Linked DNA regions of Homo sapiens: regions 1, 2, 3, 4, 5 and 6 are each linked to region 7. The links come from fine-mapping of genetic effects on gene expression. A gene starts in region 7. Each other region holds a variant in brackets. All regions are shown on one strand. Distances are between the middles of the regions. Region 1 has its middle 14 kb from the start of ATP12A. Region 2 overlaps PARP4 (poly(ADP-ribose) polymerase family member 4). Region 3 has its middle 81 kb from the start of LINC00566. Region 4 has its middle 31 kb from the start of LINC00566. Region 5 overlaps PARP4 (poly(ADP-ribose) polymerase family member 4). Region 6 overlaps PARP4 (poly(ADP-ribose) polymerase family member 4). Region 7 holds the start of PARP4 (poly(ADP-ribose) polymerase family member 4).

Region 1 (4,404 bases), 150 kb before region 7:
TGCCCTGCAGAAGTGAACACACTTGTCTCGGCTCAGCCACTCCACTCACTTTTGATGCAACCTTTCCCTTCTCTGGGAATTCTACATGAATCTTTGGGAAGATTTATTTTACGTGTCAATGTGGCTAATTCACGGTACCCAGTTGTCCAAACACCAATCTGGAAGTCTCTGTGAAGGTGTTTTTCAGATGTGATTAGCAGTTGGATCAGTAGATGTGAGTAAAGCAGAGTCTGCTCCATAATGGGGGTGGGCTTTACCCAATGAGTTAAAGAAGTTAAAACATTTGGGTCCCCCAAGGAGGAGGGAATTCTGCCTTCAGACTGCCCTTGGCCTTTAGCTACATCAACTGTGCCTGGGCCTCCAGCCTCTCCTGTAGACTGGATTTGCCAGTCTCACAATCATGTGAGCCAATTCCTTCAAATCTTTCTCTCTTTTTTCTCTCTCTCTCTCGACATCCTATTTGTTTTGTCTCTGGAGAACCCTAATACAATCTCCTTAGGCTCATTAGCCCAACAAACCACATAGAGAACTTCTAGTGTATAGAGAATAAATCAAATCAAATGGCAGTTTTCAGCCATTTGTGGGCATCCAGTAGGAGACCTGTAGGATCCATTTCTTTTTAGAGTGGGGTTTACCTGAAGAAGCTAGTGATGAACGGCCAGATGTTATCAGGAGACTGCTCCATTTTCATAAACCAGATTTCCTTGTGGTTTGCTCTGAAGCCGGCTTCCTCACGTTGGAGTGACTGGGAGCAGTGGACCAGCAGACAGTGACAGTGAGTTCCAGGCGAGAGAAGCACGGAGTAGGGGCTCTGCTTTCGACTCACTTGAGAGGCTGCAAGGAAGTGATTTGAATTCTGAGTTTTCCCACAAATTCCATGAGGTCAAGTTACTTCCGCTAAATTTCATATTGGTTATGAACTCTGTTTTCAAATGCAGCATGTAAACTCCTTCTGTAAAATAAAAGGAAGTAGGATATTCAGCAATTCTTTACTGGATGTGATCAGCAAAGACAAGACATCTGCAGCTGATGGGATCACCTAGATTTGGAGGTTGGGGAACAGGGAAGATCTAAACACCCTTGTTTTCTTGGCCTCTTTGGTCTCAGCCACATGGAATCAGATTATTTGACTAGGACTATTAATGCATAAGAAGGGAGAAACACAAAAAGGTGATTTCTTGAGGTTTCAGCTTACCTTGTCAATGATTCTGCAACTGTGTGCCATGAATTCTTAGTCCTGCAACATGGTCATAAAGACAGAAACATTCCACAAAGTTGTATATGATGGTCTTCTCCTCCTACTTGGAGAGTTCCCTGCTATTGTTAGCCCTTCTAGGGCCCCCTACTCTCCCTCAAAAGAGCATTTTCTCAAACAGAAGTGCCCACTCTAGAAGACCACTTTGTTTTTGATTTGGAAAATCAAGCTTGGCTTTGGTAAGTTCATGTTAAATCTGAAAGAAGATGTTGATTAGTCCAGCTATAATTAATAACAGTAAGTATATCATTAGCATGTACAGAATCTAACCAATAAATTATGGAAACGTTTTCTGTCTTTTCAAGCCTGAAGGTTCTTTCATAGATGGCCTGCTTTGGGAACTCGGTGGAGACCCAGTATTACACACACGCCAGGAAGCCCGGGAGGACCTTCATCTCACCCTTGCCACGTGCCCCTCAGGCAGGTATGCAGTTGGCCCTTGAACAACATCAGTTTGAACTGCCTGGGTCCATTTATACAGAATTTCTTTCCAATAAATATATTGGAAAATTTTTTTGAGATTTGTGACAATTAGAAAAAGCTCACTAATGAATTGCATAGCCTAGAAATATCAA[A/C]AAAATTAAGAAAAAGTTAGATATGTCATTGATGCATAAAATATATGTAGATACTAGTTTATTTTATCTTTTACTCCCATACAATATATAGAAATCTATAATAAAAAGTTAAAATTTATCAAGACTTATAACAGAATATACGGGACCATTTGCAGTCAGGAGAATGTAAACAAACATAAAGATGCAGTTAAATCATAACTGCATAAAATCAGCTGCAGTGCTTACTGTAATGCTGTAATCATTTCATTGCTAGCGGTGAGCTCAAGTGTGAGCTCAAGTGTGTATCTGCTTAAAACGCTGTGTGGGGCCAGTCGCGGTGGCTCATGCCTGTAATCCCAGCACTTTGGGAGGCAGAGGTGGGCAGATCACTAGGTCAGGAGATCGAGACCATCCTGGCTAACACGGTGAAACCCCGTCTCTACTAAAAATACAAAAAATTAGCCGGGCGTAGTGGCGGGCGCCTGTAGTCCCAGCTGCTGGGGAGGCTGAGGCAGGAGAATGGCGTGAACCTGGGAGGCGGAGCTTGCAGTGAACTGAGATCAGCCACTGCACTCCAGCCTGGGCGACAGAGCGAGACTCCATCTCAAAAAAAAAAAACGCTGTGTGACGCTCATCGTCTCCACATGAGCAGTTCATCTCTCTAGTAAATTGCAAATTACCATTGGTAAAAGGTGATCTCTCAGGATTCCTGTGTATTTTTCATCGTGTTGAGTGCAATACCTTGGTTAACACCATAGGACCCATACAAAGTGTGACTAGTGATGCTGGAAGTACTCCTGGAAAGCAGAGAAAAATAATGACATTACAAGAAACAGTTGAATTGCTTGCTATGTACCATAGACTGAGGTCTGCAGCTGCAGTTGCCATCATTTCAGACAACTCATCTTGTAAACAGACCATGCAAATTCACAATATTGATAAATACAGTATAGTACTATAAATGTATTTTCTCTTCCTTATAATTTTTCTTAATAACATTTTCTTTTCTCTAGCTTGCTATATTGTAAGAGAATATAGCAGATAATACGTATAACATACACAATATGTGTGAATGGACTGTTTATGTTATCAGTAAGGCTTCCAGTCAACCGTAGGCTATTAGCAGTTAAGTTTTAGAAGAGTCAAAAGTTATACATAGGTTTTTAACTGTGCAGGGGATCGGCACCCCGATCCCTGTGTTCTTCAAGGGTCCACTGTAATTGCAGTGCCTGCAAAGGCCTTGATACTTTGGAGGCTCTGAAGGAGTGGTAAGAATGGCTTTTATTCTCAAGTAGCTTCTGATCTAGCTGAAGAGATGCTAGTTAGGAGGCAGCGTATAGTGAGTGCGGGACATGCTGTGGGGGTTTACACAGGAGGAAACCAGGACAGAACATCACTGCAGTCATGCCTTACTTAAGGGTGGGGATACAGTCTGAGAAATGCATCGTTGGGCAATTTTGTCATCCTGCGAATACCATAGCATGTACTCACACAAACCCAGGTGCTATAGCCTACTACATACCAGGCTGTATTGTATAGCCTGTTGCTCCTAGGCTACAAACCTGTACCACATGTTACTGTACTAAATATTGTAGGTAATCACTACACAATGATAAGTATTTCTGTATCTAAACATATCTAAAGGTAGAAAAGGTAGAGTAAAAATAGAGGGTAAAAGATAAAAAGTGGCATGCCTGCATAGCACACTTACTATGAATGCACACTTGCAAGACTGGAAGTTGCTTTGGGTGAGTCAGTGAGTAAGTGGTGGGTGGATGTGAAGGCCTAGGACATTACTATACACTCCTGTAGACTCAATAAAGCTGTACACTTCGGCTACACTAAATTGATACAAAATATTTTTCTTTCTTCAATAAATTAACCTCAGCTATATTTTTTAAGAGATAAAGTCTCCCTGTGTTGCCTGGGCTGGTCTTGAATTCCTCATCTCAGGCAATCCCCCAGCCTCAGCCTCCCCAGTAGCTGGAATTGCAGTCATAAGCCCACCATGCCAGGCTCTTTTTAAAACTTTTTGATTCTTTTGCAATAACACTTAAAACACACACTGTACAGCAGTACAAAAATATTTTCTTTCTTTATATCCATAATCTATAAGATTTTTCTTATTTTAAAATTTTATTTATTTTGCTTTTTAAATGACTGGCAGCAAAGTAGGTTTATTCACAATAGCATCACCACAAACATACGAGTGATTTTTTTTTTTTTTTTTGAGATGGAGTCTCGCTCTGTCGCCCAGGCTGGAGTGCAGTGGCGCAATCTCTGCTCACTGCAAGCTTCACCTCCCAGGTTCACGCCATTCTCCTGCCTTAGCCTCCTGAGTAGCTGGGACTACAGGTGCCCGCCACCGCGCCTGGCTAATTTTTTGTATTTTTAGTAGAGACGGGGTTTCACCATGTTAGCCAGGATGGTCTCGATCTCCTGACCTTGTGATCGCCTGCCTTGGCCTCCCAAAGTGCTGGGATTACAGGCGTGAGCCACCGCGCCCGACACGAGCGATGTGTTTTAATGCTGTGGTGTTATGAGAGCGACCTCACTAGATGATAGGAATTTTTCAGCTCCATTAAAATCTCATGG
Region 2 (4,404 bases), 46 kb after region 7:
GGAGAGGCTGCAGCAGGAGAATCGCTTGAACCTGGGGGGCAGAGGTTGCAGTGAGCCAAAATTGTGCCATTGCACTCCAGCCTGGGCAACAAGAGCGAAACTCCATCTCAAAAAAAAAAAAAAAAAAAAAGGAGTGTGATATATTTACAATTTTCCTGAAGTAAGCTCACCTAGCAGATGGTCCAATCATAAAGCAGGGAGGCATTTCTGCCGGGTCCTCCTTGGGCCAGCTCCTGTGCTTTTAGGTGATTAGCTTTAGCAGGGACGTGACGTGGACAGTGTGGAAGAGGGAATAGCTGGCAGGTCCACTAGACTACTTTCCTTAAATACCAGGTGTTTTCACGAGGCCTCTGGCAGGTGCTAGATTGTGTGTAGTCAGCGTCTAACTCTAGTGCAGGTATTTTAGTTATTCTTGCAGATGGGGCCATATGTTTGAGTATCGCCTCTGAGGGTGACACATGGCCATGGTGTTTTGAAAATTTAATGTTTGCTGGGGCTAGGGGCACATTCAAGATTAATATAGACAAAGGGGTAAATTATTGCTCTTGACATCTAAGATATCCACCTGCAGGATGGGAATAAGTAATGAAGAGGTGATTATTGAACAGTTAAGAATGCTGGCTCTATGTATGGCCAAACTGTATGTATAGAAGCCTGGGGTTCATTTGAGAGGCTGCCACTTAATATTATCAGGTTATCCTCCTACGTGTGTTGGTAAATGTTTCCTCCTTAATACTTACATATTTCCCTAGGAATAGGGTCCACAAGAAAACAGCCTTCACAGAAGGTATTACCTATGGGTAAAGTCTGATCAGAACTATTGCTAACCCAAGCCTTCAGGTCTCCCAGAATGTATTGACATCTTGTGACTATAATGTTCTCATATCATAATATATGGTATTCATGCATTGTTATATAAATACCATATATACCAGGTGCAGTGGCTCATACCTGTAATCCCAGCACTTTTGGAGGCCAAGGCGGGAGGATCACTTGAGCCCAGGAGTTCGAGGCTGCAGTGAGCTCTGATAATACCACTACACACCAACCTGGGCAACAGAGCAAGATTCTGTCTCTAAACAAACAAACAAGTCTTAGCTTAGGAATCCCTCCATCTAAGCTTTTCCTGCCTTCCCCCGGAAAGACCCATGGCTTCATTTTCCCATGGCAACCTGGACATATTTGTCTTATAACTCTTAATATACTGTTTGTAAAGATAGAGGTCTAGCTCGTAATCCCCAATATTTAAGTGTGGAAGTAACAGAAAAGGATAGTTAGTGGTACAATAAAGAGAAAATTGTGGTGCCGAAACCAAGGATGAAGACAGTGCCCAGCCTAGGACGACTTATGTCCTCCTCATTGCCAGATTAAATGGCAGTGTTTCCAAGACTTCAATTTATGTGACCATTTGATGGTTTTCTCCTTTTCAAAACATCTAGACTGACTGACTTGTCACTATAACCCTATACTACTTAGATAGCGTACTGTTGAATTTTGCTGCTTTATCCAATCTGTGAGTTTCTGCACTTTGTATTGTTTAGGTCATTTTTATTTAATACAATTATTGATCTGGTCAGATTTATATCTACCCTCTTGCTAGTTGTTTTCTATTTGTACCATTTGTTCTTTGTTCCTTTCCCTCGCTTTTCCTGCTTTCTCTTGTATTGTTTTTTAAATGATTCCATTGTATCTCCATTATTGGCTTATTAATTTTATCTTTTTTTTTTTTTTTTTGAGACAGAGTCTCACTGTTGCCCAGGCTGGAGTGCAGTGGCGTGATTTTGGCTCACTGCAACCTAACCTCTGCCTCCCAGTTTGAGCGATTCTCCTGCCCCAGCCTCCCAAGTAGCTAGGACTAAAGGCACATACCACCACACCCAGCTAATTTTTGTATTTTTAGTAGAGATGGGGTTTCACCATGTTGGCCAGGCTGGTCTCAAACCGCTAACCTCAAGTGATTCTCCTGCCTCTGCCTCCCAAAGTGCTGAGATTACAGACGTGAGCCACTGCGCCCAGCCAGTTCTCTCTCTCTTAAAAAGTTTTGATTGTTGGCCAGGTGTGGTAGCTCATACCTGTAATCCTAACACTTTGGGAGGCTGAGATAGATGGATCACCTGAGCCCAGGAGTTCAAGACCCCTTGGGCAACATGGTGAAACCCCAGATCTACAAAAAATACAAAAATTAGCTGGGTGTGGTGATGCATGCCTGTAGTCCCAGCTACTTGAGGGGCTGAGTTGGGAGGATCACTTGAGCCTGAGAGGTGGAGGCTGCAATGAGCCATAATGGCGCCACTGCACAGCCTGGGCAACAAAGCGAGACCCTGTCTCAAAAAATAAAAAAATTAAGTTTTGATTGTTGCTCTAAAGCCACATGTTAAATATGTGTTAAATATGGTAGCCACTAATTACATGTGTATATTTACATTTAAATATAAAATAAAATGTTTTATGTGGCCAGTGGCTATCTTATTACTTAGTGCATATGTAGAGCATTTTTATCATCATAGAAAGTTACATTGGTCAGCACTGCTTTAGGGTTTACTACTA[T/C]ATACATCTGTAACTTACCACATACAGCCTACAATATTATACTACTTCATATGTAAGAACCTTACAACCAGAATACATTACATTACAACCAGTATACGTTCGTTTCTTTTTTCCCATATCCTTTGTGATATTGTTGTCGTGTGTTTTATTTCTTCATATATTATAAATTCTACAATGTGTTGTTATATATTCAACTATCTTTTTTTTTTTTAAAGTTCTGGGATACATGTGCAAGACATGCAGGTTTGTTACATAGGCAAATGTGTGCCATGGTGGTTTGCTGCACCTATCAACCCATCACCCAGATATTAAGCCCCACATGCATTAGCTATTTATCCTGATGCTCTCCCTCTCCCTGCCTCCGCTACAGGCCCCAGTGTATGTTGTTTCCCTCCCTGTGTCCATGTGTTCTCATTGTTCAGCTCCCACGTGTAAGTAAGAACATCCTGTGTTCAGTTTTCTGTTCCTGTGTTAGTTTGTGAGGATAATGGCTTCCAGCTTCATTCATGTCCCTGCAAAGGACATGGTCTGCATGGTATTCCATGGTACATATGTACCACATTTTCTTTATCCAGTCTATCATTGATGGGCATTTGGATTGATTCCATGTCTTTGCTATTGTGAATAGTGCTGCAACGAACATACACATGCATGTATCTTTATAATGGAATGATTTATATTCCTTTGGGTATATACCCAGTAATGGGATTGGTGGGTCAAATGGTATTTCTGGTTCTAGGTCTTTGAGGAAGACCCACACTGTCTTCCACAATGGTTGAACTAATTTACACTCCCACCAACAGAGTAAAAGCATTCCTATTTCTCCACAGCCTTGCCAGAATCTGTTGTTTCTTGATTTTTTAACTATCGCCATTCTGACTGGCATGAGATGGTGTCTCATCGTGGTTTTGATTTGCATTTCTCTAATGATCGGTGATGTTTAGCTTTTTTTCATATTTTTTTGCCACATAAATGTCTTCTTTTGAGAAGTGTCTGTTCATGTCCTTTGCCCACTTTTTAATGGGGTTTTTTTTTCTTGTAAATTTGTTTAAGTTCCTTGTAGATTCTGGATATTAGACCTTCATCAGATGGATAGATTGCAAAAATTTTCTCTCATTCTCTAGGTTGTCTGGTCGCTCTGCTGATAGTTTCTTTTGCTGTGCAGAAGCTCTTTAGTTTAATTAGATCCCATTTGTCAATTTTTGCTTTTGCTGCAATTTTTGATGTTTTCCTCATAAAATCTTTGACTGTGCCTATGTCCTGAATGGTATTGCCTAGATTTTCTTCTAGAGTTTTTATAGTTTTTGGTTTTATATTTAAGTCTTTAGTCCGTATCGAGTTATTTTTTGTGTAAGTTTAAGGAAGGGGTCCAGTTTTAATTTTCTGCATATGGCTAGCCAGTTTTCCCAGCACCATTCATTAAATAGGGAATCTTTTCCCCATTGCTTGTTTTTGTCAGGTTTGTTGAAGATCAGACAGTTGTAGATGTGTGGTGTTACTTCTGAGATCTCTATTCTGTTCCATTGGTCTATGTGTCTATTTTTGTACCAGTACCATGCTGTTTTGATTACTGTAGCCTTGTAGTATAGTGTGAAGTCTGGTAGTGTGATGCCTCCAGCTTTGTTCTTTTTGCTTAGGATTGTCTTGGCTCTACAGGCTCTTTTTTGGTTCCATATGAATTTTAACCTAGTTTTTTCTAATTCTGTGAAGAATGTCAATGGTAGTTTAATAGGAGTAGCATTGAAGCTATACATTACTTTGGGCAGTATGGGCATTTTCACGATATTGATTCTTCCTATCCATGAGCATGGAATGTTTTTCCATTTGTTCGTGTCCTCTCTGATTTCCTTGAGCAGT
Region 3 (4,404 bases), 100 kb after region 7:
AATACAAACTTTATAAAGGGAAAGCATGATACCTATGATGGTAAGACAACTAAGAACTTCTGTTAACCAGAAGATACTCCTGAGAGAGAGAAAAGGCAAATCACAGAGCAGAAAAGCTTTCTTGAAATACATTTATGACCAATAACAAAACTGAAATCAGAATACATAAAGAACTCCTACAATCAGGAGAAAAAAGATGAATAATCCAGGAGAAAAATGGTTAAGAAAATTAAAAAGTTACTTTACATAAAGGATATCCAAATACTTAATAATCTTAAGAAAACTTCCTCAATCTTATTCGTAATTATAGAAATGCAAATGATCACCACCATAAGATGCCATCACACAAACACCCAAAGGCTAAAAATAAAAATACTCAGAACTGCAAATATTGGGGAAGATATGGAATGCTTGAAGTGTACAATACCAGTGGAGTAAAAATTGGTACAACTGTTTTAGAAAACAGGTGACATTATCAAGTAAAGTTCAAGATTCATTACCCTAAGACAGAACAATTTTAGTCTGAGGTATACACTCAACAAAAATGTGGCCACAGGTGCAACAAGAAACGTGTATTTTTAAAAGCAGTATTATTGGGCTGCGCCGGGTGGCTCATGCCTGTAATCCCAGCACTATGGGAGGCAGAGGCAGGCGCATCACTTGAGGTCAGGAGTTCGAGACCAGCCTGGACTACATGGCAAAACCTCATCTCTACTAAAAATACAAAATTAGCTGGGTGTGGTGGTGGACGCCTGTAATCCCAGCTACTCAGGAGGCTCAGGCATGAGAATTGCTTGAACCCAGGAGGCAGAGGTTGCAATGAACTGAGATGGTGCCACTGCACTCCAGCCTGGGTGACAAAGGGACACTTTATCTCAAAAAAAAAAAAAAAGCAGCATTATTTCTCACAGTAAAAATTGGAAACAACTCAAATGTAATAGAAAAAAAGAGATTCCATTTTCAGTCACAATTTGTGTAGGAATGAATTTTTGAAAAGATGTGCAAAGACATGATAAAAAAGTATAAAATATTATTAAAGAATGAACAAGATGGTTCACATGTACAACTCAATATCGCAAAGTTGTCAGTTCTCTCAAGTTAATCTATAAATTCAATGTAGTTCCAATAAAAATCCTACAAGTGTTTTATTATGGCACTTCACAAAATGATTTTAAAATTGAATGTCATAATAAAGTTCCAAGAAGAGCAAGACAATTCTGCCTTTATCAAACTATATTATAAAGCTACAATAATTACAAAAGTGTGGTAGAGAGAACTTAGAAACAGTTTTGAATATTTATAGGAACTTGGTATATTACTGAGAGGGACTACAAATTAATGGAGAACAAATTAGCATGCAATTGATGGTGTTAGGACAATTGGCTATCCATATGAAAAAAAATACTTCCCCCCCAACTTCCAGTTAGATTAAAGACCCAAATACTAAAAATGGAACTTGAATATTTTTTAAGAAATGTGGAATATCTTTACTACATCAGTATAAGGGTGAATTTCATAAACATGACAGAAAAGCATGAAATACATACACACACATAGATGAACAAATTTTACTACATTCAAAATTACAAACTTCTCTCCAGACATGAAGGCTCATGCCTGTAATCCCAGCACTTTGGGAAGCCGAGGTTGGTGGATCACTTGAGTACTTGAGTCCAGGAGTTCGAGACCAGTCTGGGAAACACAGTGAGACCCTGTCTCTATAAAAAATACAAAAATTAGCCAGGCATGGTGACGCTCGCCTGTAGTCCCACTTACTCAGAGGGGCTGAGATGGGAGGATCGCTTGAGCCCTGGGAGGTTCAGGCTGCAATGAGCCGAGATCGTGCCACTGCACTCCAGCCTGAGTGACAGAGCGAGATCATGTCTCAAAACAAAACAAAAATTTACAAACTTTTGTACAACAAAATAAATCACAATCAAATTTAAAAGGCAACATGTGGGGAGAATATAATTGCAATACTAAGAAAAATTGACATTCAGATTCTTTAAAGAACTCCTATAAATCAATATAAAATATTTTTACCATCATGATAACCTGCAGGCAGCAACCAACC[A/CA]GAAGACAGCAAGACTAATATGAATGAACACATAAAAAAGAGGCTGCTCTGGTACATACCAGCTGAATATTAGCCCTCTAAACAACCTTTAACAAAATCATCAAAATATTATGTGAACACAGAATAATGTAAACCCCCTCTCAGCAAAAAAGAAAAAAATCAAATTTGAAATGAATGTTTTCCTTCAAGCAAGGAATTAGCATTAGTTAATAGAAAACTGATGCTAACTTCTTGAATAATAACATTTTAGGTTGGGCAATGTGAAATGGCCATTTTTAAAGCAAAAGATGGTTAAAAACTGGCAATTTCAAAGGATTCAACCTCTATATTCTTAATTTAACTATGGTATTGTAAATTGCCAGTTTATACACAATATTCCAACCTGTAGAGCTAAACACAGAACCTGTATATTAACTAATATACAGCTAAACACAGAACCTGTGTATTAACTAATGGACTTGAAACTAGTCAATAAGACTAAAACTTGATTTTACTGAATTATGTAAGTCAGTTTACAGTGCTATGTTTTCCTGGAATTTGATATAAAAATTGATTTAGAGCCCACTAAAAATGTAATTATTTGTGTTTGTCAAAATTTGTGAAATATGCTTAGATGATTATTTAAAGCCTAAACCTGAATGAGAGAAAACCTAATTGAACTTAAATTGGTTGGATTTACAATGGCTTTTTCCCCCATTTTAACCCCACCAATGTCAACTTCTTTGTATCATTACACTACAAAAATTCCAGTATAATTTTTGAAATAGCATCTCTGTTGGCTCACTTAATCTAAAAGGTTCTCACAAAGTTTAAGAACAACCTTAAATATTACTGGAACAAAAACAGACATCTAGACCAATGGAACAGAATAGAAAGCCCAGAATAAGTCCATGCATTTATACTCAGCTGAGTACAAAGGTGCCAAGAATCCAAGATGGGGAAAGGACAGTCTCTTCAATAAACAGTACTGGGGAAACTGAATATCCACTTGCGGAAGAATGAAATTGCAACCTATCTCACCCAATATACAAAAGTCTACTCAAAGTAAACGCTTAACTGTGAAAGCTGAAATAGGAAAACTACTAGAAGAAAACATAGGTGAAAATCTTCTTGACATTGGTCTGGGCCAAGGTATTTTTGGATATGACTGAAAAGCATAGGCAACAAAAGAAAAAGCAGACAAATGATACTTTATCAAACTAAAACACTTTTGCACAGCAAAGGAAACATTTATAGAGTGAGGAGACAACCTACAGAATGGGAGAAAATATCTACAAAGCATACATTCAACAATAGGTTAATAGATTATTTTTAAAAAGGAAATCAAACAACACAATAGCAAGAGAACAAGTTACTTCTCTGGAAAATGGGCCAAGAACCTGAAAAGATATTTCCCAACAGAAGACATACAAATGGCCAAGAGGTATATGAGAAAATGCTAAACTTCGTTAATCATCAGGGAAAAGCAAATTAAAACCACAAAGAGATATCCTCACACCTGTTAGGATGGTCACTAACAAAAAGACAAGAGAAGAGTTGGTGAGGATGAAGAGAAAAGGGATCCCCCTTGTACACTGTTGGTGTGAATGTAAATTAGTAGTTATTGTGGAAAACAGCACTGAGATTCCTCAAAAAACCAAAAATAGAACTACCATATGATTTGGAGAGTCCACTTCTGGGTATATATCCAAAGGAAATGAAATCTGCACTCCCGTGTTCACTGCAGCATTATTCATAATACCCAAGCTATGGAGTCAATCTAAATGTCATCAGTGGATGAATGGATAAAGAATATGTGCTATCTATAAATAAAGGCATACAATTCAGCCTTAGAGGATATCCTGTCACGTGATAATATGGATGAACCTGGAGAATATTATGCTAAGTGAAATAAGCCAGGCATAGAAAGAAAAATACTGCATGACTCACTTATTTGTGGAATTTTAAAAAATCATATTCATAGAAGCAGAGAGTAGAATGGTGGTTACCGGGGGCTGGGGGGACTGTGGAGATGTTGGTTTTTACTTTATTATTTTTTTAGATGGAGTTTTGTTCTTGTTGCTCAGGCTGGAGTGCAATGGTGCGATCTCGGCTCACTGCAACCTCTGCCTCCCAGGTTCAAGCGATTCCTCTGCCTCAGCCTCCTGAGTAGCTGGGATAACAGGTGCATGCCACCACACCCGGCTAATTTTTTGTATTTTTAGTAGAGATAGGACCTCACCATGCTGGCCAGGCTGGTCTCAAACTACTGACCTCAGGTGATCCACCTGCCTCTGCCTCCCAAAGTGCTGGGATTACAGGTGTGAGCCACTGCGCTCAGGCTGAGATGT
Region 4 (4,404 bases), 150 kb after region 7:
AGCCTCACACAGAAATGGCCACTAGAAGAAGCAGGAGTGTGTGGGGGCGACAGGACAGGAAGTCCATCCCTGTTCCTTAATTGAGCCACCCACGTTAGCGTGACCCATGCTCAGGCCAGCACTCTTGTCTGGACCTGTTATGGTGGTTTTCCCAAGCACATGCGTGGCCACTGTCCTGTGGGTCAAAGGCATGGGTGGGCCAGTGGGAAACATGGATTAAACACATTGACTATTTTACTACAGTCCTTCCCAGAGTGGCCTGGACACTCATGGCCATTGGCAGCTTCTAAGAAAGGACAGGTGTAGCTCTGGGGCTGCAGAGGGCAGAACCTGGCAAAAAGCCAGCTGGCCACTTCTGGGCAGGTGGGCAGGGCAGAGCTGCTGTCTCCCAGCATGGAAGGAGAGTCAGTGTGTCAGGATGGCCGGGCTCTGGGGCACTTCCTGGGCTAGAACCTCAGCTTTCAGGATCCCCAAATGACCCCTCATTTCAAGGCTGCCAGGGGCACGCTGTCTGCCTCTCAGGACAAAACTGAGAAGGAATTCACCAAGTCCTGCCTGTTCAACCACGTGTAAGTGATGAGGGCTTGTGCAGACACACATCTAGTCCCTGGACTGCCACGAAAGAGGCAGAGGAGCATCTGCATCTGCAGGAGCTCTGCCAGTGCTTCCCAGCACGCTTCGAGCTGGCCTGGAAACAGAATCAGGCTCCATGGCTGCTCTCCTGGGATGCGGTGGGCAGGTCTGCCGGGATCCCACAAATAGGCGAGCAGAGAAGCCAGTTCCCCCTGCGCTCTCTCCCCTTGGGAGATGATGGCCACACTGCCTGCAAAACCACCCAAAGTTGCATCTGGGACTCTTTGGAGCAGGAGTGGTTTGCATGAGAAATTTGAGGATGCAAACTCAACTCATCATTATTTCCGAACCAGCACGGAGGAGTTTATTATCTCATCACTCACTAATCATGCCTTATAAATGCAGGGACAGACAAAATCCCACAGAATCAATAAAATCGTAAGTTCCCGGTCTAAACCACAGCACCTAGGATTCTTGAGTAAACCTTTTGGTAATTTACAAAGGCCGTTGAATTTTATAATAAGTGTTTTTCAAACCAAGCTGGATTCTAAACAATAATGAATTTTTAACGTGGCTCTGTGATTACATGGTTGTGGTGAAATATGGGGGTCTTTGACTGCATCTGAAATGAGCCTGGTGTGAATTACTCACAGGCATAGACCAGCATGCCCCCAGGTAAAGCAATCTTCATAAGTTACCCTCCAATCCGGGTGGCCTGGCAGGCAAGGCCTGATGCCAATGTTTGCAACTCAATTTTCAGTGAACAATTTGTAAACAAGTTCTTCCTTTTCTTCGGGGCAGTGGCCATGGCCACCACCTCTGAGTGGAATGGCTGAGCTCCCCCCAGCCTGCCACACGCCAGCTGAGGCTTTGTGTGTGTCCAGGATGGTGGCCACTCACCCACGGAGGTGCTTAGAGGGAAGTGAATGAAAGGAACTGACACTGGGCGCCAGCCACATGTGCCCACGGCCCACGCGGCACCATTTGAGGAGCCAAGAAGAAAGTCCTGCTGGCCTGCTGTGGGCCAGGGCCTGTGCTCCACACAGTGAGAGCAGGTTTCCCTCAGAGACCTTCAGCCCACCCCAGGGGACTATGAGACAAGGCTGGGGAGCAGGGGGAGCCATGGACGCTCTTGAATCCAAAGCCACTGGGCAGACAGGTGAGCTTGGCTCAAATCCATGAGCCCGGGTGTGGGCAGTAGGGCCTGCAAGGCTGGGTGAAGGCTTGGGGGCTCTGGAGGCTGAGGCAACCAGACTGGGACCACAGCCATGGGTGCTGGCACTTGCCTGTCCTTGCCTTGCAACTGTCACTCCACAGGCTGGGGAGCCCGGGCCACTGGACCAGGGACAGAGTGAGGCTCCTCAGTCCCAGAGGCAGCTTCAGGTCAGGGACTGGGTGGGGCGGGGGGGGCAATTGAGGGCGTTCCCACCTGGACTTTCACACCAGGGCCCCTCGCCCTGTCCTTCCCTGCTGCCCCAGCCTGGGAGCTCCAGGACAGGTCCCGCCTCACCCCGTGCCTGGGTCTTGGGGAGAGTTTGCTGAGGGCATCCATGCCCAGGGCCCTTGGGGGCAGGACCAGGATTTGCACCCCCCACCCCAGGTGCCTCAGTCTGAAGGGGCCTCCTGGCAAATGAGCTCACCCATCCCTGGGGCAGAGGGCCCCACTTCCTGGGGTGTAAAGTCACCTCCTCGTTGCCCCGGATGCTTCCATGGTAACAGATTCTTCTGCAGTAGAGTGGTGGGGCACCCCTTCCCTGACCATCTGCCTCCCAGCAAGCTGGTGGAGGGGCTCACTCCCATCCACGTGCCTCCCGTGGGCTCCCGCCTTCCTCTGGGCACCCTGGGTGCACCAAGGTGTTTTAGAAGGAGCTGCACCGGCTTGGAGGCAAGAAGGGCAGGAAGCGGCTGTGGAGGTGCCCAGCAGGAAGGGCTTGTGTCTTAAGGTCCTGGGTATTTAGAAATGTTTTACACAGGCTCTCTTTTTGATTTTATGTAAAGGGAGTTTTCACAGCTACGCACATTTATTCCAATGTTCCACTGGGGAGAGC[T/C]TTCCCAGAACCCCGGGGCTCCCAGCCCCCATGGCTCTTGAGGTGGCTCCAGTATGCAGTGGATGCTTCCAGGGTGCCCCAGGGTCCCTTGGGGGCTCTGTGGAGCTTCTGTTTCTGAGGGTGGAGGCCTGTGTTCATGTGAGGGTGGAGGACTGTGTTCACCTGAGGGTGGAGACCTGTGCTGAGGGTGGAGACCTGTGCTCATCTGAGGGTGGAGGCCTGTGTTCGTCTGAAGGTGGAGACCTGTGTTTGTCTGAGGGTAGAGCCCTGTGTTCATCTGAGGGTGGAGACCTGTGTTTGTCTGAGGGTGGAGACCTGTGTTCATTCTCCTTAAAGGCCTGCCTTCTGGTGCTGCCCTGCTATTTGTGGCTGTTTCCAGAGGCAAGCTGGAAGTGCGGTGCAGCTGGGGCTGTGGAAAGCACTCCCTGCTGTGCCCTGGGGGTCTCTATGGGAACACAGAGACTGGAGCTGGAGGGGCTGGGGGTCCAGGGAAAGTTGAAATAAAGGCTGCCTGCACCAGGGCCTTCCCCAGCACCTGTCACTGAGGCTGCTGAATGAACCGGGCAGGGATGGCCTGCAGGCCTGTGGTCCTGATGACTTAGTTTTCGCCCTGATCCTGCTATCTGGGGGCTGAGGTTCTGCCTGGACGGCTGCCCCAGAGGAGACTGGGCAAACCCCTGGCTCCTGGGGTGGTCTCCTGCAGCCTGTCAGCAAGATCCCCTCTGCCCTCAGCAGGGATGCTGGGTGCCCTAGGGAGGCCTCAGCAGCCTGTTTCATAGCTGAGGACGCTGAGACCTGGAGCACAGGGATGCCCACCTGAGGCCCCACAGTTGGGGAGAAGCAGGCGTGAGGGTGGGGCCCTCTGGGTCAGATGCTGTCTGCCTGGCGGTATGGCTGTTGGAGTAGGGGGAGCTGGTTCGGGGAGGGGTCCGGGAGCCATTCCACTGGGGTAGTTGCAATGCCCAGAGCTAAGCTCTTGGTACTGGCTCTGTTCCATGCCCTGGGCAGGCATCGCCTCCTTCCATCCTCAAACCCTCTCCAAGGTACTCAGTATCTTATCCCTGTTCTGTTGATAGGGAAACTGAGTCAGGGTCGCCATCACTGGGCTGGCCAGATGAGCTTGGGTCCAGGCCCAGGCAGCCCTGCTTTGTGGGTATGAAAGGCCTGGTCCCCACTGCCAGGCCAGCACCCAGCTATGGGTGGTGACCAGGCCCGGGGCCTCAACGTGCACACACACGAGCTGGGTTCCTAGCGGCCGCTTGACTTCACAGGATTGCTGAGAAAATCAAACAGGTTAATGAATGACAGTTGGTTGGACCCAAGTAAGGAGTTGTTAGTAAGTTCCTTTCTGGTATTTAACCAAAGCATTTGTTTGCAGCCCTGGGACTGTTTTCAAGAGGAAAAAGTCCCCGCAAAGCAGCAAGCAGAGTCTCTTTAATGTCCCTTCTTAAATTAAAAAAAAAAACGGTAGAAGTCAGGAGTAAAATTGCCTCTCATGAAGACACCACGGAGAACCGATGTAATTTCCATAATGCAGGACAACAATGAGCGCACAGCCTCATGGGAGAATAAATCCAGCCACTTTAAGGGAAGAAGGGAGGCGCTAAGTATATCACATCAAAAACTAACTTATGAACTTCAAATCTATGCACCAATTCAAAATCTGATTTAACAAACTGCTCTTACTAAAGTCAATTGGTAAGCATTCCATTATAAAAACAAATGAAATCTTCCCCGTCTATGAGATAAATAATTTTCTCCCCACACCTAAGCGGGAGGCATT
Region 5 (4,404 bases), 92 kb after region 7:
ATTTTTTATTTCCTGTTTATTGCATATTTGAAACTTTGTTCTATATTTTCTATTTCAGGATGTACATAACATTGATGCAAGAGCACATTATATGGGGGTGTAGGCACAAGATTTTCTTGCTAGCGGAATGTGAACCAAAAAGTGTAGAGGCCAATCAGTAAAAATATTCAAAGCCAGTTTTGTTGTTTTCAGCAGTTAGTAACTATCAGTAGATGAATATTTACTAGGAAACATTGGTCTTTTAACCACTTTGGGCATGCTTCTTATTTAGTATGTTCATCATGATTTAGTATCATGACATTCAGCGAACATTTATTGAGTGCCTACTGTGCACTAGGGACTAGTAAGCATGTTAAGTTTGTAAGCTTTGTTGATTTCCACCACAAACCCATAGGACCTCAGGTTATTCTCATAATTGAGGAAACTGAGATTCCCAGTGTTGAATGAAAGCCACACAGTATCACATGGCCAATATCATGTGATTGCAGAGTCAGGACTCAAACCCAGCTCTTAACCACCACGCTATACTGACGGCCCTTTCCCAGTTCACAGGGAAAATTCAGGAACAGGGAGAGAATTTTCAAAATATTAAGTTTCCCCATAGAATTTTCTGAAGAACTTTGGTATATGTTGCCCCTTGTTCACTAACAAGTTCTAGCAGATGACAGAACAAATGAGGAAGTAGCTAATTAATATTAATGAACAACCTCAGAATTTTTCTGAGTGTTGAATAGACTTGAATATTCAACAGTCTCAAATATTTGACACCATTTAGTGGACACAGACTTGACTCGATATGCTTATTCTACCAAGTTGTTCCTGGTTTACGTGACACAACTGAATGTATGCCAGTTTCATGGGGGACTCTCAGATATTCTGAAGGTACCTAATCAAGTCAGTACAGTGGGAAGGAGAGAGAAACAGAAGCCTCATTTGTGAAATAGTACTTGAGTTTGTGCGTGAAGAATGGATAGGATTTAGACTGAGAAGCGTGGAAAGGGGACAACCATAAACAACTGTAGAGCGGCTGGAACGTGAGCTGTGCTGCAGGCAGCAGGGATGCCTGGAGGCACGTGGAAGCCAGGAGGTGGCGGGCACAGGGCACTTGACAATGCAGTGCATAAGCTCAAGGTCAGACGGGCAGAAGAACTTCCGTAAGATGCCAAGGAAAACTGCTTTTATTAAATATCTTAATTTTTGGCAGAATCATTTTGTCTGATATAATGTGATGGGTTTAGTACCACATTACATTTCACATGTTATATTCTGAAATCTGAAACTTTTTTTTTTAATCTAGGAATATTCCCTGGGCTTTTGAGGCAATAAAGCAAGCAAGTGAATGGGTAAGAAGAACTGAAGGACAGTACCCATCTATCTGCCCACGGCTTGAACTGGGGAACGACTGGGACTCTGCCACCAAGCAGTTGCTGGGACTCCAGCCCATAAGCACTGTGTCCCCTCTTCATAGAGTCCTCCATTACAGTCAAGGCTAAGTCAAATGAAACTGAATTTTAAACTTTTTGCATGCTTCTATGTAGAAAATAATCAAATGATAATAGATACTTATAATGAAACTTCATTAAGGTTTCATTCAGTGTAGCAATTACTGTCTTTAAAAATTAAGTGGAAGAAGAATTACTTTAATCAACTAACAAGCAATAATAAAATGAAACTTAAAATATTTCAGTTTTCTGTGTCTCATTTTTTTTGTTGATTTTTTTATGTATTTTTTTTTTTTTTTTTTTTTTTTGAGACAAAGTTTTGCTCTTGTTGCCCAGACTGGAGTGCAATGACGTGATCTCAGCTCACTGCAACCTCTGCCTCCTTGGTGCAAGCAATTCTCCTGCCTCAGCCTCCCGAGTAACTAGGATTATAGGCACCTGCCACCATGCCCTGCTAATTTTTTATATTTTTAGTAGAGATGGGATTTCACCAGGTTGCCCAGGCTGGTCTCGAACTCCTGACCTCAGGTGTTCCACCCGCCTCGGCCTCCCAAATTGCTGGGATTACAGGTGTGAGCCACTGTGCCCGGCCTGTTGTTGTTGTTTTAGAGATGGTCTCAATCTGTCTCCCAGGCTGGAGTGTGGTGGTGCGATCATACCTCACTGCAGCCTCAAACTCCTGGGCTCAAGGGATAGTCCTGCCTCAGCCTCCCAATTAATTGAGACTACAGGCATGTGCCACCACACCCAGCTAATTTTGGGGTGTACTTTTTGTAGAGATGGGGTCTTGCTCTGCTGCCTAGGCTTGTCTTGAATTTCTGACCTCAAGCGATCCTCCCACCTCAGCCTCTGAATGTGTTGGGATTACAGGCATAAGCCTCTGCACCCAGCCGGTGTTTCAGAGTTTTAAGGTGATGAGAGATGCTTCTGGATAGTCCTGGGAGCCTGTGTCCTTCTCACATTCAGGAGTCCAGTGGAAAGCTGGCTCAGCTGGACTGAGCAATCTGAGAAGAAACATGATCTTTTGTAGGGGATCTGTCAGGGTGGTGGGAGAAATTATAAAAATTAAGTTGTAGGAAACAGACACAAAACTTCTTGGAAGGCCAGGAGGTTTGCATAGCTTCAGTAAAAGATTTGGCTGAAGGCAGCTGAATTCTCTTAAAAGCTCAG[G/A]GCGTAGATACATAGGAATGTAGAGGAGTTTATCTAAATGGCTTGTTTACTCATGTGGTCCTAAGATCAACCTTTGATAATCTGCAGGCACGTGACTGCCGTCTACTTGGGAGGTCAGCAATGTTAATTACCCTCTAGTGGTGTTTACTTAAGACCTTTGTCCTTAAATCTGTACTGAATAAATGCCTGGAGCCCCAGCCTGTCAGGGCCACAGCTGCTGACTCTTTACAGCACCCTCCTCAGTGTCTGGGAGCTGCCGGTCCCCTAGCCTGCTGTTTCATGGGATACCTGTGTCTGAGTGCATTTCTTCATCCGTCACACGGCCAGGGTATGGAGGTTGGACCCAGCAAGTTACTGACACAGTTTGAAAATTACACAGGATTGGTCGTTGAGTTGGATATTTTAGTCAACATTTATTAAGCCCGTGCCTCAGCAGTAGTTGACTTTTGTCTAAAGGGAAAGAAAGAAATTCTAGTTTTCCCAAACGTCCAAGGCTCCATCCAAAACATGCTGAATCAAGATTTCCAGAAGAAAATCCTGGCAACTTGGATATTTAATAGGTGTTCCAGGTTATCAAGCATATTTGAACACAGTGGCCCAGGTGCTGTATCTCAAAGTGTGAGTCTGTGGACTGGCATTGTCTCCCTCACTCAGGAGCTCATCAAGACAGGCAGAATCTCTGGTCCTGTTCGAGGCTATTGAATCAGAAGCTGCATTTTATTTAGCAAGGCCCCCAGGCGACTCCTGTGCACATTTATAGTTGAAGGGCTAGTGGACTGTGGTGACAGGAACATATTTGGTGCGTGCAGGGCCTTGTTCTAAGAACCCATGATGCTTGGGCACAGTGGAGCATCTCATCAGTCCAATTGTTGGGCGAAAAGCTGAGGCAACACTTGCTAGTCTGACATAATATAAAGAGTCTTGGAACATGTCCTGGGTCCAGAGTTTGAAACCTCTTGTGGCCTATGGAACACCAAGCTCTGTACTTAAGAGTGGAAGGCTGCCCTGCCGCACTACAACCTAAGCCCAGGGCATAAAACCCCTCGTGGCTTGGATGGAATCCAGGGCTCAGGGCATAAAACCCTTCGTGGCCTCTGGAATGTGTCCAGACTTGCTGGCTCCTTGCTTCTTGCTCTCCCAGGATCATAAATTGATTGTATCTTCAAAACAAATAACCCCATTAAAAATGGGCAAAAGATATAAACGTACACATCTCAAAAGAAGACATACCAGTGGCCAACAAACATATGAAAACATAGAACTACCATTTGACATTGCAATCCCATTACTGGGTATACATCCAAAGGAAAGTAAGTTCTACCAAAAGGACACATGCACTGTATGCTCTTCTCAGCACCATTGACAATAGGAAAGACATAGAATCAACCTAGGTGCCCATCAATGGTGGACTGGATAAAGAAAATGTGGTACATATACACCATGGAATACTACACACTCATAAAAAAATTAAAATCACGGCTGGGCGCAGTGGCTCACGCCTATAATCCCAGCACTTTGGGAGGCGGAGGCGGGTGGGTCACCTGAGGTCAGGAGTTCAAGAGCAGCCTGGCCAACATAGTGAAACTCCATCTCTACTAAAAATACAAAAATTACCCAGGCATGGTGGCAAGCACTTGTAATCCCAGCTACTTGGGAGGCTGAGGCAGGAGAATCGCTTGAACCTGGGAGGTGGAGTTTGCACTGAGCCAAGATCATGCCATTGCACTCCAGCCTGGGCAACAAGAGTGAAACTCCATCTCAAAAAAAAGAAAAAAGAAAAGAAATTATGTCC
Region 6 (4,404 bases), 53 kb after region 7:
AGCTGGAGGCTTTTGCTTCATGTGGGGAAAGGATCCAGGGAAGTGGCCCCAGCACCTCCCACACACCTGCTCCACGGAGAGGTGCTCCCCTTGGTCTCCTGCCCTGCTCAGCCTTTCCAGTGGGCCCAGTGGAAGGCTGTGGGGATATGGGGAAACGCCTGCAAGAGAATGCAAACTCCCCTTGGGTCAGGAGCTCCCAATTCTTCTAAACCAGTAAGCTTACCCACTCTCAGCCGGGAGGAGTTCACACAGATCCTGTGTCCCATCTGTCCCCTCTTTGGAATTCAGTTCGCTTGGTTGATGAGTTCAAAACAAGTTATGATTTTGTAGATTGCCTGGTGTGTTATAACAGAAGTGACATTTTCTGCATCCACCTATATCCTACCCAGAAACAGAACTGCAATCCCACTCTATTAAGTGGCAGTGTCTCAAATGAACCCCAGGTGTTTATACATACATTTCTTTTAAGGGCTAGCACTATTAAGTATTTAATAATCATCTCTTTATTGTCTGTTTCCATCCTGTAAATGGATGTCTTTGATGTCAAAAGTAATAATTTAACCTTTAAGCCTAAATTAATCCTAATCTAAATATACAAAATTTTCATGATGGGGTGGTCAACTAGAATGGTGAACATAGTTGGGGATGTTGAGAGGATCTCTGCATAGTTATCAGAAAAAAATGTATCTAGCCTCTTTTTTCTGCCCTAGCTAGTCATGGGGTTGCCACCTTATATAGCTATTATCAACATCCCTTTAAAAGAAAGCTAAAGACTTTTTAGTAAAAAAATAACATGATAGGCTGGGTGTGGTAGCTCACACCTGTAATCCCAGCACTTTGGGAGCAGAAGGTGGAAGAGTCACTTGAGGCCTGGAGTTTGAGACCAGCCTGGGCAACCCCATCTGTACAAAAATATTTAAAAATCAGCCAGGCATGGTGGTGCGTGCCTGTAGTCCCATCTACTTAAGAGGATGGCTTAGACCTGGGGTTTCAAGGCTACATTAAGCTGTGACTGCACCACTGCCCTCCAGCCTGGATGACGGAGCAAGATCCTATCTCTAAATAATGAATAAATAAAAATAAAAATAACATGAGAAATTACCATAGGGTAAAATAATTAAGCAAGGGCCAAGCTTAGAAAAAACTGCCCTGGTTCTACAGCTGCTGGCAAAAGTGGTGTTGGGTGCCATGGAGGTCAGGGAGGGTCTTCAAGAAAGGGCTTTGTGGAGGCCATCTGTGCAGCAGAGCCCACCCATGCAGCAGAGCCCACCCATGCAGCAGAGCCCACCCGTGCAGCAGAGCCCACCCGTGCAGCAGAGCCCACGTGTGCAGAGAGCTCACACATGAGAGCCCCCTGGGGCAGAGTCCATGAGTGCCTCTTCCCAGTTCCGCTGCCAAGGGGGCCCCTCTCCATCTGCCTGCCACGGACATCACCCTGTTCCCACCACTGGTGAATGGCTCCAGGATTCTCCGTTAGCCCCACCAATGTGTCTTTTAGGTTTTATTACTGTTTTCTGAGGAAGAATTTGGCAGGTTGTCATTCAAGTTGCTTAAGAAGTACGTGGAGTTAGCTGGCATATAATGGGTATGCTTTCAAGTTGGAAGCTAAGTCATATGTTTCTGTTTCAGGACGTTTTTACTGTAAGTGTTGGAAACTTACCCCCTAAGGCTAAGGTTCTTATAAAAATTACCTACATCACAGAACTCAGCATCCTGGGCACTGTTGGTGTCTTTTTCATGCCCGCCACCGTAGCACCCTGGCAACAGGACAAGGCTTTGAATGAAAACCTTCAGGTTTGTACGCATAAGATTTGAAGAAGCATTTTGGCAGCAGTGGAGGGGGAGTGGTGGAGGGCTGTGGAGGAATTTATGCCTGGGGAGAAAAACATGTAAAATAATCTTTTAGGCATAAAGTTAATTTTACTGACATGCATTTAGATACATTATGTGTATAAAATGAAAAGAATAAAAGTTACAGATATGATCAATAAGCATATTTTTATTC[TG/G]CTTAATCACTCAAAAAATGTTATATCTGTAGTGCAAGTTCATCATGAAGAACTAGATAAGCATAGAGAATACAAATAAGCCAAAATAAGAAAATTAAAACCATCCTTTATCCCATTGCCCAGAGTTAATGGTTAATACTTCGGTATATCCCTCCAAACTTCCTACTTTGTATGTACAGCACATGTATAAAATGTGTGTGTGTGTGTGTGTGCGTGTGTGTGTGTGTATACACACAGACATATGTAGAGTTTAAAATCTCTGTCAAAATGGTGAGTTGTATTTTAGAAGTTCCTGTCATTCCATGAGCAAACTTTCTGTGTTTCACTGCTTGAAAGTGAAACCAGCTGTCTTGCTGACAGTTGTGGCCTTGCCAAGATTACATTCACTTTAGTCTCATTGTGAAACTTAATATATGCTTAGTTATACAAATGTATTTTTCTTTTAACAGGATACAGTAGAGAAGATTTGTATAAAAGAAATAGGAACAAAGCAAAGGTTAGTACCTAAAATATAAAACCTGTCAATTCAATGGATATTGGTTTTCTGGTTTAAATTTCCATTTAGAATTGTTTGAAATAATTTCAGATAGAAATTTAAGATCGTAGACTAAGACAACTTTCTCTTCATTTTTGCTAGCTTCTCTTTGACTATGTCTATTGAGATGCCGTATGTGATTGAATTCATTTTCAGTGATACACATGAACTGAAACAAAAGGTTAGTGCATCTTTGATTTCTTAAGAGCTGTTATTTTAACACTACTTTTATCTTATCAAAGCAATGTATGCACGTGGTTGAAAAGTGAAATAATGCTGACAAAACTTCTAACAAGAAGCACTACTCCTGCCCCTGATTCTCCCCAGACCAGTTTCCAGAGACAGTGAATCATTTGGACTATTTGAGCTGTTTCTTTGATTTTGCCTCCAATTTTTAAATATTAATTTTTAATGCTTTTTCTTGATTTCGCCTGTTTCAGAAATTATCTTTTGACTTCCTGTTTTGGAAGTTGGACGTGTAGCTCTTGCCCCCTCCACCCACCTAACTCACTACTTTTCCTCTCCCCTTCATTCCAAAAGACCTGTTTCACAATAGTCAGTGATTATCATGTAAATGATGTTTACCACTGAGCCAAGAAATGTATAATATTATGATGAGTTTTTTTTGTTTGTTTTGTTTTATTTTTTGAGACAGGGTCTTGCTCTGTCACCCAGACTAGAGTACAGTGGTGCAGTCATGGCTCACTTCATCCTTGACCTCCTTGGATCAAACAACCCTCCTGCTTCAGGCTCCTGAGTAGCTAGGGCTACAGGCCTGTGCCAGCACACCTGGCTAATTAAAAAAAAAAAAAACTTGGCTGAGTGCGGTGGCTCATGCCTGTAATCCCAGCACTTTGGGAGGCTGAGGTGGGTGGATCACGAGGTCAGGAGATCGAGACCATCCTGGCTAACATGGTGAAACCTCGTCTCCACTAAAAATACAAAAAATTAGCCGGGTGTGGTGGTGGGCACCTGTGGTCCCAGCTACTCGGGAGGCTGAGGCAGGAGAATGGCGTGAACCCAGGAGGCGGAGCTTGCAGTGAGCTGAGATTGCGCCACTGCACTCCAGCCTGGGCGTCAGAGCGAGACTCCATCTCAAAAAAAAAAAAAAAAAATTGTAGAGACAGGGTCTCACCATGTTGCCCAGGCTTTTCTCAAACTCTTGGGTTCAAGGGATCCTTTTTGCTCTGGCTTCCCGAAGTGCTAGAATGACAGGTGTGAGCTACCACACCCAGCCTATTTTCCTTTTTAGAATTCTGCAGGAACTTCAGACCTTCTCTTTATCTCTGGTATTCTGAAATTTCATAACAGTATGATTTTCATTCATTGTATGTAACTGGTGGTCTTTAGTTCTGAGAAATTTTATTGTATTAAAAAAAAGTTCCTCTCTTGTGCCTTTCTGCAGTGCCTTTCTTTTTTTCTTTTTTCTTTTTTTTTTTTTTTTTTTTTTTTTTGAGACAGAGTCTTACTCTGTTTCCCAGGTTGGAGTGCAGTGGTGGGATCATGGCCCACTGCAAACTCCACCTCCTGGGTTCAAACGATTCTCATGCCTCAGCCTCCTGAGTAGCTGGAACTACAGGTGCCTGCCACCACGCCCAGCTAAATTTTCTATTTTTAGTAGAGACGGGGTTTCCCATGTTGGCCAGGCTGGTCTCAAACTCCTGACCTCAGGTGATCTGCCTGCCTTGGCCTCCCAAAGTGTTGGGATTACAGGCGTGAGCCACTACATAGTGGTGGAGGAGTCCTCAGTAGCAACAAGAGAGTGCCAGGCCCGTTGCATGGACACTTTTCACGCCCCTGCTTGTATCTCATCTGCCAACATATCATTGGCCACAGCAAGTCCTTTGGCCAACTCCAGTTTCA
Region 7 (4,404 bases):
ACTGAGCCCCTCACCCGGGGACTGAGCATAGTACCCAATAGTTTTTCAACCCTTGCCCCTCCCCCTCCCTCCCTGTCTAGTTGTCCCCAGTGTCTATTGTTGCCATCTTTATATCCATGAGTACCCAGTGTTTAGCTCCCACTTACAAATTAGAACATGTGGTATTTGGTTTTCTGTTCCTTCATTAATTCACTTACGACAATGGCCTCCAGTTGCAGTCACGTTGCTGTGAAGGACATGATTCCATTCATTCTTTTTATGGCTTCGTAGTATTCCATGGTGCAAATGTACCACATTTTCTTTATCCAGTCCATTGTCGATGAGCACCTAAGTTCATTCCATGTCTTTCCTATTGTGAAGCGTGCTGTGACGAACATACTAGTGCATGTGTCTTTTTGGTAGAATGAGTTCTCTTGTTTTGAATATGTACCCAGTAATGGGATAGCTGGGTTGAATAGCAGTTCTGTTTTCAGCACTTTGAGAAATCTTCAAACTGGTTTCCACAGTGGTTCAACTAATTTACATTCCCACTGACAGTGTATAAGCATTTCCTTTTCAATAAAGCCTTGCCAGCATCTGTTGTTCCTTGACTTTTTAATAATAACCATTCTGACTGGTGTAAGATGGTATCTCATTGCAGTTTTAATTTGCACTTTTCTGATAATTAGTTATGCTGGGCTTTTTTTCATGCTTGTTGACCATTTGCACATCTTCTATTGCATATTCTCTATTTATTGAGACTTTGTTCTCCTGGTTGTTTCTTTCAGTTATTTTTCTATGTTTCCTTTCACTTTTTGTCCATGTTTAAGACAGTTTATTTGAAGTATTTGTCTAATAATTCCTATGTCTGTGCTTCCTCAGCTCAGGGACAATTTCTGTTCATTTCTTTTTTCCTTTGAATTGGCCATTTTTTCGCCTTTTTTTTTGCATGCCTCATAATTTTTTGTTGAAGATTGGACATTTTGAGCATTACGATGTGGTAACTCTAGGAATCAGTCTCTCTCCTCCCCCAGAATCTCTTGTTGTTTCTTAGACAACCCTATAGAGTAGGTTGTAATGATGAAACTTGGTAAATTACCTTGTCCCCAGCCCCCTTGGTAATAAATTGTGGAGTCAGGATTCAACCCCATACCCTTTCCACTGTATTCTCTACTCTATCCTTTCTATTCTCATTTTATTCAGTATCCTAAAAATCTGAATCTTCCCCATTGCTTTATTCCCATTTCAGTGAATCTCAGATCTGTATCTCCAGCCCCCTGCCTCTCTTGAATGGCAGATAAATATATTTCCAACTAGTTACACTGTCACGAATTTCAAACGCAGGAAGGCTTAAAGTAAATTTATTATCTCACTCTCCTGTTTCCACGAACTTTCCCGAAATTTTCTTCTTTCCCGGCCTTGTGAATCCCTTCCATTTCTCAGTTAAAGGACAGCACCATCCACCCACCTCTCTCAAAGCCGAGCTTTGTATTAATCCTCATTGACAAAATCCCTCCTGAAATATGAAACTGAAAGCCCTGAACCCTCCGGCTGATCTTGGAAGAGAAACCCCGCCAGAGGCCGGGGACCCGCTCCCCACCTGGCGGACCCGATTCCGGGCGCGTTCCGGCTATCGTCCCTGCTTGGGACGCTGCGCCCGCCTGGTGCGGGGCGGGGTTCCGGCGCAGTGGCGCCCGCCCAGCCCCGGGGGCAGGGAGAGCCTAGATTACGGAAGTACCGCGAGCAAGGAGCGCGGAATCGGGGAGCGTCCGGAGCTAGCTGGATCCTCTAGGCAGGTGCGTGGGCGCTGCGGGGTGGGGGGCTGCAAAGGTCCCTGTAGTCCTAGCCAGGAAGTGGCCCGCGTACTACTTTCCCGCCAGTGGCTGCACCCTTGCCCTGCGCGGCGTTGGCGCTGTGGGCCTGACGGCGCTGCTAGGCTCGGGAGTGGACTAGCTAGTGCAGCCAGCGCCCTCGGGGAGGGATATTGCGGTCGTTCCGCTCTGCCCCGCGGCGCAGCCCTGGTGACGAGAAACCGGGTGCGGTGGGGGGCGCCCACCGGAGCCGACAGTCACACCAAGTCTCCGCACCCCGTGCGGTGCGGTTCGCAGTAGCACGCGTTGTTTCTTGTTTCCAGTATGCCAAACGGCCTTCTTTCCTAAAGTTAGGTTTCGAATTGTGCAAAAAGTAAGGTGGTTTGGTGAGTAATCAGGAAGTACTATCTGACCTCGTGAGTCATTGGGAACACCGTGATAGAAACAATGTGTTTGTTGAGGTCCAAAGTTGAAAACCTCTAACTCAGTTAAGTAATTCCTGCTAGGAGGGCCGAATGGTTCACCCAGGGATCGAGTTGGTAGATCACAGGTTCTAGAAAACTAAGGCGCTGCTAAATATTCAAGCCCAAGCACTTTCAATTCTGGACTGCTGGATGACAACAATTATATGACAATATCCAAGCATAGTGCTATGATAAAGGGGAAGTTCGCTCTGAGATGTGCGTGTTGCAGACTCATTACATCTGACTTTATCATTTATTAAGTAAACATTAGGTCTTGTTTGTGTGCGTAGAGCTACTGTATATCATGTAGGAGTGAAATAAAAGTAGTACCTTTGTTGTTTAAGGGTTTAATAAACCCATTAGGGAGGTGCATTACTGATGCCATTTGAGTCCAAAATGCAAATAGTGTCAGAAGGCTTTTCTGTAATCCTGGGCTTTAATGGATACGTGAGAGTTTTTAGTAAGCAAGCTTTTATTGAATGCCCACTGTATATCAAAAGTGATCTTAGCGTGTGCTGACTCACACACTTCGGAAGGCGGAGGCTGTAGAATCAAGACTGCCCAGAAAGGGACTCCTCAGGGTTTTCCGAGAGGAGGAAATGCCAGTGGTAAAGACGAAGACCTGTGAAGCAGGAAGCCACTTGATTCCACCTACACCAATGGTTTATGGAGCAGCCAAGAGTTTGTGAGGAGGCGCGCTGAGGGTTTCTTAGGAATCGGGGCTGTTCCCTGCTGTCTTTGGGTGGAAGACACTCTGTGAATGTTATTTGGGGAAGAAGCTGGGAAGGGGGACAGGCTGGAGTGACTGTGCAGATTTGCCTTAGAGAATAACCAGCCCCTAGCCCAGTGTCCGCCACATCTCATATGTACGTAATCAGCGCTGATGAAAACATGAACTAACTCTGTGTTTAGAGAACACTTTGAAACAAGGAAGAACTAGTGGCGCATGTCGGTTAGGCGCTGTTAACCCAGAAGAGGGCTGGCATTTTACAGAGACTAGAGATGAATCTGTGGAAAGAGAGAAGTCAAGACCTGACTTGAGATTTCACGAAACCCAAAGTGCGCCTTTCCATACCTCCCACGCAGCCGCAGGTGCTAAGAACAGACCGCAGATTTATGTTTAAAATGTTTTTACTCTGGGCCGGGCGTGGCAGCTCACACCTGTAACCCCAGCACTCTGGGAGGCTGAGGCAGGAGGATGGCTTGAGCCCAGGAGTTTGTGACCAGCCTTGGCAACATAGTAAGAACCCTGTCTCTACCAAAATTAGCTGGGCATGGTGGTGCAGGCCTGTGGTCCCAGCTACTAAGTAGGCCGGGTGAAAGGATTGCTGGGAGGGAGGTCGAGGTTGCAGTGAGCTGTGACAGTGACCACACCACTGCACTCCAGCTTGGGAGACAGAGCCAGACCCTGTCTCAAATAAAATAAAATGTTTATACTTTGATTTCACAACTATGTGTATGTACTTAATGCCACTGAACTGTACACACAGTTTTAAAAACTGTACCACAATTTTTAAAAGGCTAAAAAATGTTTATACTCCTTGATTCAGTAATTCCATTTCTGGCCATCAACTCTAGGGAAACTATGACAGAGATGTGGCAAAAAAATATATGTACAAGCATTTTAATTAAAGTGTATTTCTAATAGTGAACACTTTTTTTTTTTTTTTTTTGAGACGGAGTCTCGCTCTGTCGCCCAGGCTGGAGTGCAGTGGCGGGATCTCCGCTCACTGCAAGCTCCGCCTCCCGGGTTCACGCCATTCCCCTGCCTCAGCCTCCCAAGTAGCTGGGACTACAGGCACCCGCCACTACGCCCGGCTAATTTTTTGTATTTTTAGTAGAGACGGGGTTTCACCGTTTTAGCCGGGATGGCCTCGATCTCCTGACCTCGTGATCCGCCCGCCTCGGCCTCCCAAAATGCTGGGATTACAGGTGTGAGCCACCGCGCCCGGCCAATAGTGAACACTTTTAAGTAACCAAGTATCTGATGACTTGGGGAAGGATGAAATAAACGCAAAGCTTATGTAACCACTAAAAACACCTTCAAAGAATATTTAGTGACATGGGGAGGATATCACTAAAAGCTAAATAAGCTGTGAAAGTGAAAGTCCTATTTAAAAAGTAAAGAGCAACTGGCTATAACATTAAAT

The links. PIP is the estimated chance that this variant, and not a neighbour inherited with it, causes the effect.
Region 1: its variant is fine-mapped to the expression of PARP4 in whole blood (INTERVAL, PIP above 0.99).
Region 2: its variant is fine-mapped to the expression of PARP4 in whole blood (TOPMed, PIP above 0.99).
Region 3: its variant is fine-mapped to the expression of PARP4 in whole blood (TOPMed, PIP above 0.99).
Region 4: its variant is fine-mapped to the expression of PARP4 in fibroblasts (GTEx, PIP above 0.99).
Region 5: its variant is fine-mapped to the expression of PARP4 in whole blood (INTERVAL, PIP above 0.99).
Region 6: its variant is fine-mapped to the expression of PARP4 in whole blood (TOPMed, PIP above 0.99).

The regions. Positions count from the first base shown.
Region 1 is chr13:24,664,078-24,668,481 of GRCh38, reverse strand. No RefSeq gene overlaps it. Among named protein-coding and RNA genes, the nearest start is that of ATP12A, 14 kb to the left of the region's middle. The variant A/C (reference allele first, on the strand shown) is at 1,831.
Region 2 is chr13:24,464,127-24,468,530 of GRCh38, reverse strand. The region is part of intron 17 of PARP4 (poly(ADP-ribose) polymerase family member 4); the gene reads left to right. Among named protein-coding and RNA genes, the nearest start is that of PARP4, 46 kb to the left of the region's middle. The variant T/C (reference allele first, on the strand shown) is at 2,548.
Region 3 is chr13:24,409,922-24,414,325 of GRCh38, reverse strand. No RefSeq gene overlaps it. Among named protein-coding and RNA genes, the nearest start is that of LINC00566, 81 kb to the right of the region's middle. The variant A/CA (reference allele first, on the strand shown) is at 2,075.
Region 4 is chr13:24,359,778-24,364,181 of GRCh38, reverse strand. No RefSeq gene overlaps it. Among named protein-coding and RNA genes, the nearest start is that of LINC00566, 31 kb to the right of the region's middle. The variant T/C (reference allele first, on the strand shown) is at 2,622.
Region 5 is chr13:24,418,208-24,422,611 of GRCh38, reverse strand. It overlaps PARP4 (poly(ADP-ribose) polymerase family member 4), which reads left to right. Exons shown (of 34, transcript NM_006437.4): 34 at 1,298-1,681. The coding sequence ends at 1,493. Among named protein-coding and RNA genes, the nearest start is that of LINC00566, 89 kb to the right of the region's middle. RefSeq lists an enhancer at 2,494-2,999. The variant G/A (reference allele first, on the strand shown) is at 2,613.
Region 6 is chr13:24,457,362-24,461,765 of GRCh38, reverse strand. It overlaps PARP4 (poly(ADP-ribose) polymerase family member 4), which reads left to right. Exons shown (of 34, transcript NM_006437.4): 18 at 1,630-1,794; 19 at 2,456-2,502; 20 at 2,644-2,722. Among named protein-coding and RNA genes, the nearest start is that of PARP4, 53 kb to the left of the region's middle. The variant TG/G (reference allele first, on the strand shown) is at 2,006.
Region 7 is chr13:24,510,077-24,514,480 of GRCh38, reverse strand. PARP4 (poly(ADP-ribose) polymerase family member 4) reads left to right here and starts at 1,703. Exons shown (of 34, transcript NM_006437.4): 1 at 1,703-1,775. All of the region lies in intron 1 of LOC105370117 (a long non-coding RNA gene), which reads right to left. RefSeq lists a silencer at 1,546-1,705.